Linked DNA regions of Homo sapiens: region 1 is linked to region 2. Evidence: fine-mapped expression QTL. A gene starts in region 2. The other region holds a variant in brackets. All regions are shown on one strand. Distances are between the middles of the regions. Region 1 overlaps SAP30BP (SAP30 binding protein). Region 2 holds the start of WBP2 (WW domain binding protein 2).

Region 1 (4,389 bases), 180 kb after region 2:
AGGCTGCAACTGTACCCAGAAAGACTCTAGGACCCAGATCCTCCCTTCCCTCCACAACTGAAACCCAAACACTTAACGGCTCCCTGGGCTTGTTTTACGTGCAGGCTCCAAGTCCCACATACCCTAAATACTAGGCAGAGAAGATTATCACTACTGAGTGTTTTGTTCTGCAAGCCCGAGGAGAGCTGTGACTGACTTTGAACTATGGGGCCATGGGTCTGCCCATACCATCTTGCCAGTTCTCAGGCAGGGCGAGTTCTCAGGCCTGGGTTCCAGGTTTTTCACTCAGCATAGAAAGCAGGTTGCATTTACAGTTTTCAGGGGTTCTTTTTTTTCCCTCCTGCATGCTGGCGCCAAAACTTTCTTTCCTGGTAAAACACACTCTTATCTTTCTCACTCACAACGTCTCAAGATTTTAGTGGCTACATACAGTTCTATCCAATCACAGAATCAGCTCAAATATGGAACAGCTCACACTATATTTTCAAGAATATTACTGTTTTAGATTTTAATTGGGCATAAATTTCCTAAATTTTACTAGGTCATCTTGAAAGTTACAGCTGGTTTCCAAGCAGTTTTTTTTTGTTTTTTTTTTTGAGACAGATTCTCATTCTGTTGCCCAGGTTGGAGTGCATTGGCAGATCATGGCTCACTGCAACCTCTGCCTCCCAGGTTCAAGTAATTCCCCTGCCTCAGCTTCCCCAGTAGCTGGGATCACAGGTGTGCACCACCCACCAGTCTCACCAGTTAATTTTTGTATTTTTAGTAGAGACGGGGTTTCACCATACTGGCCAGGCTGGTCTTGAACTCCTGACCTCAAGTGATCCTCCCGCCTCAGCCTCCCAAAGTGCTGGGATTACAGGCGTGAGCTACTGCGGCTGGCCTCAAAGCAGTTTTTAACTGCAAAATGGGTCCTTATTCCCCGGGTCTAGAGTGATATAATTAAGTCTTTTTCTTTGGGGGTACAGGGGGGAAGTTTTTCCTCATAAAAAATGACTCTTCAGCAAGTACACATTTCTAATGGCCAATGCACAGCACAGCAGCTTAACCAACACAAGGGTGTCTTAACCTTCACAACAGATCATTATGGAATGTGATAGGAATTGCTACAAATTACTCTTGGCTGCTACTAGGATGACACTATGAGAATAGTTATGTTGTTCCGAAAAAGACCATTCTGTACAGCTTGCCCAAAAGTGGATGGACACACCCCCAGGAAAATGAGCATTAGACCCACCATCCCTGAGAGCTGGGGAGAGGCCTCATTTTGGTCTGACCTTCTTATAGCCTCTTGTTCACTTCTAGATGACTAAAGAGAACCCAAAGCACGCGAGGCGGCCCTTACACCTTCCTGGGTCTAGAAACAGACTAATCCACCTGCAGGGCAGTGACACTTAAAGCCCCATCTGGGATGCAGAATGCAAGTGGGTTGTTGGCCTCAGCCAGGCCTCTCGCCTTTCTAGTCAGGAGATATGGCACAATCTGAAAGGCTGGAAATCCAATGTGTCTCAGGATTTGTTCATTCCTGAGTTGTCTCCAGGTTCTTTCTTTATAAAGCTTATTTTATCCCAGAAAATGTCCACACAGTTGCACAGTTTGTCAGTGGGACAGATCTTGACCAAACATACGAACTGAGCCACAGTGTTCAAACACCTTGTTTGCATCCAGCCACCCACCACAGCCAACACCAAATACCTTTGGGTCATCAGCCTCAGGTTTTTCAGTCTCTGAATCGTCATCTTCCTACAAGACAAAGAATTTAGAGGATTAAGCTTAAAGGAGCGGGCCTGAGGAGTCTCACATGCATAACTAGGGGCCGGAGCAAACAGCCCATTTACCCAGCTGGGGTCATCCCACCAAGAATCCCTCCCCTACCATATAACTCAGAACCAGAGAAAAATAAGGGGAAAAAGAGATATTCTGGAGGGGAAAAAAACAAAAAACAAAAAAGCATCAGCAGCTCAAAGTCAAGTTACTTTAGTGGTGAGACAGTCCACATCAATGAAGATGCCC[G/A]AGTTCAAAGTCACATACATAAAAATGGAGAAAGCTTGCAATATGTTTTAGGAAAGAGTAAGATCAGGCCACACAATAAAACAGGCATCGTGTTTCCACTGAAGTATCAGTTATTTCAAATCAGGATTATGAGCCTTCTTTCCTTTTCATATACACATGTACATCAGACTCGGACCTACTCTAACAGTGTCCAACACCAAGTGCCAAGGCTTACACACAGCTGTATCGCAGCACCTCAACCGGCATTTGCACAAACATCAACACAGGAAGGCAGGCATCAAACTACCTGAGCAAGTGACCTGGGAAAGGCAGGACTAAAGGGCAATGCCCAACCTTTCAGGAGTCCCAGTTGAGTGGGCTCTGCCTCCACCTAAGTGCTCACAGAACTGCCAGTGATCCATTCTACCCAGTCCTGTTCCTTATCCAGATGAGGTCAGCCTGACACAAAGGATCACACACGGTAAGGCATTCTCCAAAGCGAGCCCGCCATTCCACTGAACGCTAACGCTGATGCTATGAAGGTCAAAGATCAGGAGCAGATGCTGGACCAGCTACCTTATTAGCTGGCTAAATCCATGTCACCTCCACTACCCAGAACACTCCCAATGCACAGAAGCCTTTAACTAAATACCCAGGAAAAAATGGTTTCATTTGAAACTACTATTTTCAACAAAGCTACATTTCAGCCCAAACATTACACAGCACTCCATATATTAATATAAATACCACTCGAGAGACTTGAACAAACTAGACTCATGATTTGGAGACTTAACTGTCCTGTAAGGTACCAGTGAGTCCAAGGCTTTAAATGCAATCTCCATAATCTCCTTAAAATGAAATCAGTCATGCCAAATAAACAGAGATGGAGCTCAGACAAATACAATCACATTTCAGAATCTCTACAACAAGATCTGATGAGAGGATTTTACTAAAATATGAAATGAAGCTTAAACATGATGAAAATTCTAAGCAAAGCAAATATGAAATAACACTTCAAAAACACATTATGCAAACGTACTAAAGAAAAGAGTTATGAATATTAAGCCAGAATGTGTGTACTTCAGAAAAGTCAGAAAACAACTTGCAAAACTTTTCTGAATAATTTCAGTCAACTCTGAATTATCAATATTAATGGATGGGGCTAAAGGCATGAAAGTATCTCCCAAAATGCATCATGTACAAAACGCATTTCTGTTTGTTGTGGAAATAATTTTTTTTTTTTTTAAGATGGAGTCTGGCTCTGTTGCCCAGGCTGGAGTGCAGTGGCGTGATCTCGGCTCACTGCAACCTCCGCCTCCCGGGTTCAAGCGATTCTCCTGCCTCAGCCTCCCGAGTAGGTGGGACTACAGGTGCGTACCACCATGCCCTGCTAATTATTGTATTTTTAGTAGAGATGGGGTTTCACCATGTTGGCCAAGATGGTCTTGATCTCCTGACCTTGTGATCCGCCCACCTCAGCCTCCCAAAGTGCTGGGATTACAGGCATGAGCCACCGTGCTTGGCTGGAAAGAATTTTAATGCTAACATTTACATACCAACATGTAACAAAAATTTCAAACAAATAATATATTTTAAGTGATTTAATTAAAACTTGCTAAGCAGTCAGATTTGACATCTAGACTCAACTCTGCCTGTCTTATGCTAAGCACCAACTTCAATTTCCTTGCGTTTTCTGCAAACTTAAATTCTGGCTCATGTTGCTCAGGTGATTATGTGTCTAAAGACTTTCTTGTTAATAATAGCACAGGTTCTCCTTTCTCCAGCACCTACTGAACTTCAGGCAAGATTTGTGATCAAGAACTAAGGGCACCATTATAAAAAGTGCCAAATAAAATGTCAAGAAAGAAGTTAAGAAGGCCAGGGATGGTGGCTCATACCTGTAATCCCAGCACTTTGGGAGGGTGAGGCAGGGGAATTGCTTGAGGCCAGAAGTTTGAAACCAGACTGGGAAACATAGTGAAACAACGTCTCTACAAAAAATTTTTTTTTAAATTTTAAAAATCGGCCAGGAGCAGTGGCTCACGCCTGTAATCCCAGCACTTTGGAAGGATGAGGCGGGTGGATCACCTGAGGTCAGGAGTTAGAGACCAGAATGGCCAACATGGTGAAACCGTCTCTGTGAAAAATACAAAAATTAGCCAGGCGTGATGGCAGGTGTCTGTAATCCCAGCTACTCAGGAGGCTGAGGGCAGGAGAATTGCTTGAACCTGGGAGGTGGAGGTTGCAGTGAGCAGAGATCGCACCACTGCACTCCAGCATGGGCGACAGAGCAAGATTCCGACAAAAAAAAATAATAATAGGTTAGCTAGGCATGGTGGCGCCCACCTGTAGTCCCAGCTACTGGGTAGGCTGAGGTGGGAGGATCACTTGCGCCCA
Region 2 (4,389 bases):
TCCATGTTAGCCAGCTGGTCTTGAACTCCTGACCTCAGGTAATCCGCCGACCTTGGCCTCCCAAAGTGCTGGGATTACAGGTGTGAGCCACCGCGCCCGGCCTAATTTTTGTATTTTTATAGAGATGGGATTTTGCCATGTAGTCCAGGCTGGTCTCAAACTCCTGGCCTCAAGTGATCCACCCACCTTGGCCTCCCAAAGTGCTGGGATTACAGGCACGGCACCAGGCCTGGATTTTGCTTTTCTTTTTCTTTTTTCTGAGATGGAGTCTTGCTCTGTCGCCTAGGCTGGAATGCAGTGGCATGATCTTGGCTCACTGTAACATCTGCCTCCCAGGTTCAAGCGATTCTCCTGCCTCAGCCTCCCGAGTAGCTGGGATTACAGGTGCCCGCCACCATGCCCGGCTAATTTTTGTATTTTTAGTAGAGATGGAGTTTCACCATGTTGGCCAGGCTGGTCTTGAACTCCTGACCTCAGGTGATCCACCTGCCTTGGCCTCCCAAAGTGCTGGAATTTGGCTCACGCCTTTGGCGTGAGCCACAAACCCCGGCCTGCTTTTCTTTTTTAAATTTACATATTATTTATTTATTTTTATTTTATTTTATTTTGAGATGGAGTCTCACTCTGTCACCCAGGCTGGAGTGCAGTGGCGCAATCTCAGATCACTGCAAGCTCTGCCTCCCGGGTTCACGCCATTCTCCTGCCTCAGCCTCCCAAGTAGCTGGGACTACAGCCGCCCGCCACCACGTCCGGCTAATTTTTTTTTTTTTTTTGTATTTTTAATAAGGGGTTTCACTCTGTTAGCCAGGATGGTCTCGATCTCCTGACCTCGTGATCCGCCCGCCTCGGCCTCCCAGAGTGCTGGGATTACAGGCGTGAGCCACGCGCCCGGCCTAAATTTATATTTTAAACGCACATAGGAAAAAAAAATTAAACAGTACCAAAGAGTACAATGCATACTGACATACCGAGTCACCAATCCACCCCAAATTCCTAGACCCATGTCTCAAAAATGCCACAGACATTTTCTGATGGATCTTTGCAAAAATTTTCTATCTAGATCCTATTTTTTATACAAATACAACTATATGTATACAGCATTCTGTGCTTAATAACCCTTGATGATCTTCCCATATCAGCACATAGTCTGACTTAATTCTTTTTAAAGACTGCAGAGATTGCAGGCGCCAAAATACATCTAACCATTGGGGCAGATTTCATTATGACTATCCTTAACCCACTGTACTTGTCCCGCAAGGTCCAACCTGGTATTGCACAGGACCTCACAGAACGCTGCTGTTTCCTGATCTTTTCTAGTGAGGCAGCTTTGTTTCTTCACATAGGAGACCTCCCTGGAAAGCGAAGTCAAGCAGGTGGATCTAGAGGTTGGCCACCACAGTCAGGAAAGCAGCTGTCTACTGAAAAGCAAACTCTAATTCCTTAACATTAACGAGTACCGGAACTACCACGTGGGAAGTGCAGCCCCCTCTCTCCGCCTCACGGATTCAGCTCGGAGGTGCAGGGGTTTGGTGGGGGGCGGTTAGGGAATGACAGCTGCCCCGTGGAGGACGCCCAGGGCTGGGTCACGAGCTGACAGGAGTCAGCCTTATTCTGTAAATCCTAGTTATCAGGATGCCGGTTTCGCGCCGTGCCCAGTCCCACTCAGCCTTCAGTCTTCCGGCCGGGACCCCGCTGGGCGCTAAGGGGGGAGCGGCGCCACCGCGAGGCCGGAGAGGGGGCTGCGAGGGGCGCCCGGCCGGCCTGCGAACGTGGTGGGAGCCAGGCGGGGCACACGGCCTCCCCTTCCCATGAGGGACTCTCCCCGCCCCCCGGGCTCAGCGCTGGGAGTGGTGAGATGGATGGCGGGGTGATCCGACGCCGCCAGCCCACCGCGTCCCCAAGAGCCGGGGCCTCCGGCTCAGCTAAACGCCCCAGAGTCACGCATGCGCCCCATAAACGTCTGCTGAGTGAACGAAAGCTCCCCATCCACAAGGGGACAGCTCGGCGCTCCCACGCCATGTCCAGGTCGCATTCGACCAGCAGGACTTCCCTTAACGCGCTGCCGGAGTCCCCAAGATCGCGCCCCTGCCAGGAGCGGAACTGTTTATTTCCGTCCGGCTGAAGAGGCGGGGTGGGGATGGCACAAGCCGATTGGTTACGCAAAATGTGGAACCAATTCAGGCCTATGATCCAGGAGACTACAAGTTCCAGAATGCATCCTTCCTCCAGCATAGGGACAGGCCGAGGCTGCGGGGGCGTTGCCTGCTGGGAATTGTAGTCTTCATCTTGTTTGTTGCGCAGGAGGAACTGGAAGGAGGGAGTAAACTATTACCACGTGACGTTCGGGTCAGGTGTTTGGGCCAGCCTCCGCACTCGAGCTTTGATTGGCTGACTCTAATAAGAAGACGCCACTAGGGGCGGGGCGAAGAGGGGCGCAAGCTCATTGCGTTTTGAGTCTCGGGACCCCTGTTGGAGAGACTATGGCGCTCAACAAGAATCACTCGGAGGGCGGCGGAGTGATCGTCAATAACACCGAGAGGTGAAAACACTGCGGAAGGATCCTGGAGGACCAAAGTTCGGGTGTCGAGGAAGTGGGCGGTGGGTGGTGGGTGGTGGGGAATAAGCCCCTGAAGAGGGAGCACTGATGGAGTGAGGTTGGTGGGGAACGGCTGGGGGCGGGGTTGGAGGAAGGTGGGTGGGCCGTGGGGGAGAGCCCGGGAGGTTGTGATCAGCTGGGAGGCGGGGGTGGGACGTCTGCATGGGGACCTGGTATGGGGCCCCCGGTGGGGCCTAGGGGTGATTCTTGAACCCCTTCCCAGACTTGTGATTTCAGTAGCTGGGAGGAGCCCCAAACAAAAATAATTGTCACTTATTGGATGTCTACAACGTTACTACGTGTCAGGCTCTGCGCCTTTTCTACCTTATTTAATAAATTCTGTGCAGTATAATCTACTACTGTCCACATTTCACAGGTAGGGAAAGTGGAGGGCAGAAAGGTTAAGTAACTTGCCCGAGATCGCAACTGTGTAAGTAACAGAGGTGGTAATTCCAGGAAAGGAGTCTTGACTCCAAAGTTAATAGGATTAACCACCAGCATACAGGCTTCCAGTATGTTCCAGAACTGTTCAGGTTCCCGGTAAAAAACTGAGGTCCCAGAGGTGAAATTAAACAGATGACGTTTGTCAGGTGTCTAACAGTTCCTGGCACTGTGTGGGTCCGTAGTCATTCCCTTGCCTCTCTCTTGAATGCCTGTTGGTTTGGGTCACCTCGGAAGGCAGAGCTCTCCTAATTCAAGGTTCTTTCCACTCCATCCTCCCCACCCCTTGCTCATTGCATCCTGTCTCTCCTCCAGTCTCTGCCAAGAGAAGCCTTAAATGGCCTCTGTCTCCTTTTGTTCCTTGGGTATTGAAAATCAGACCAGCCAGCCCTGGGTTGAACTATGCCGACCCTGAATTGCCTCTTGAAGGCAGAAGGAGCTTAGGAGGCACCTGAGTCCCCAAAGGAGACATCGTGGAGTCAGAGCCCTGTACCCAGCTAAGGCCAGCATCCAGCTGCCCTGTGACTTGGGAATGTTTGATGAGTCAGAGGAAAATGCCTAGAGTGACCCAGCATGCTCACTTTCCCTCTATCTTACCCGCTCAGAGTTTCATGGGCCCAGCCTGTTGCTGGTAATTCCTTCTTTTCTCTGAGCAGTACTTCTCTTCTCTTTTTTTTTTTTTTTTTTTTTTTTTTTTAGATGGAGGCTTGCTCTGTCGCCCAGGCTGGAGTGCAGTGGCACGATCTCAGCTCACTGCAACCTCCGCCTCCTGGGTTCAAGCGATTATCCTGCCTCAGCCTCCCCAGTAGTTGGCATTACAGGCACCCGCCACTACACCCAGCTAATTTTTTGTATTTTTAGTAGACATAGGGTTTCACCATGTTGGGCAGGCTGGTCTCGAACTCCTGACCTCGTGATCCACCCTCCTCGGCCTCCCAAAGTATTGGGATTACAGGAGTGAGCCACCGCGCCCAGCCATTTTCCTTTGCTTATACCAGTTGTTTCCCACTTACCCTTCCCCAGTCAGAGAAAGTTGTGATATATGGGGGGAGGCAGAAGACAAACAGAACCGTGTGAACCTTTTTATCATGTAATCAGAGACACCTCACACTGTTTTGTTGCATCTCTGTGTGTGAGTCAGTTCCCAGGCCTGGCCAGCTTTTCGTGCCATTTGGCAACATCTCTGGGGACTGTTTTTCTTTCTGTCTCTGTGGAACTTTCTGAGACAAGAATGTATCTATCCTGCTCGGCCTTCTACCTGGCTTAGGGCTCAGTCCTGCTAAGTAAGGTGTGCCTTCAGCCTGCTGTTTTAGAAAGTGCTTCAGCCTGCTGTCTGAAAAAGTTGTATCTAT

What was found.
Region 1: its variant is fine-mapped to the expression of WBP2 in tibial artery (GTEx, PIP above 0.99).

The regions. Positions count from the first base shown.
Region 1 is chr17:75,669,170-75,673,558 of GRCh38, reverse strand. SAP30BP (SAP30 binding protein) reads right to left here. Exons shown (of 11, transcript NM_013260.8): 3 at 1,696-1,743. Among named protein-coding and RNA genes, the nearest start is that of SAP30BP, 4.0 kb to the right of the region's middle. The variant G/A (reference allele first, on the strand shown) is at 2,014.
Region 2 is chr17:75,853,389-75,857,777 of GRCh38, reverse strand. It overlaps WBP2 (WW domain binding protein 2), which reads left to right and starts at 2,443. Exons shown (of 8, transcript NM_012478.4): 1 at 2,443-2,539. The coding sequence starts at 2,481. RefSeq lists enhancers at 824-1,619, 2,228-2,357 and a silencer at 1,688-1,857.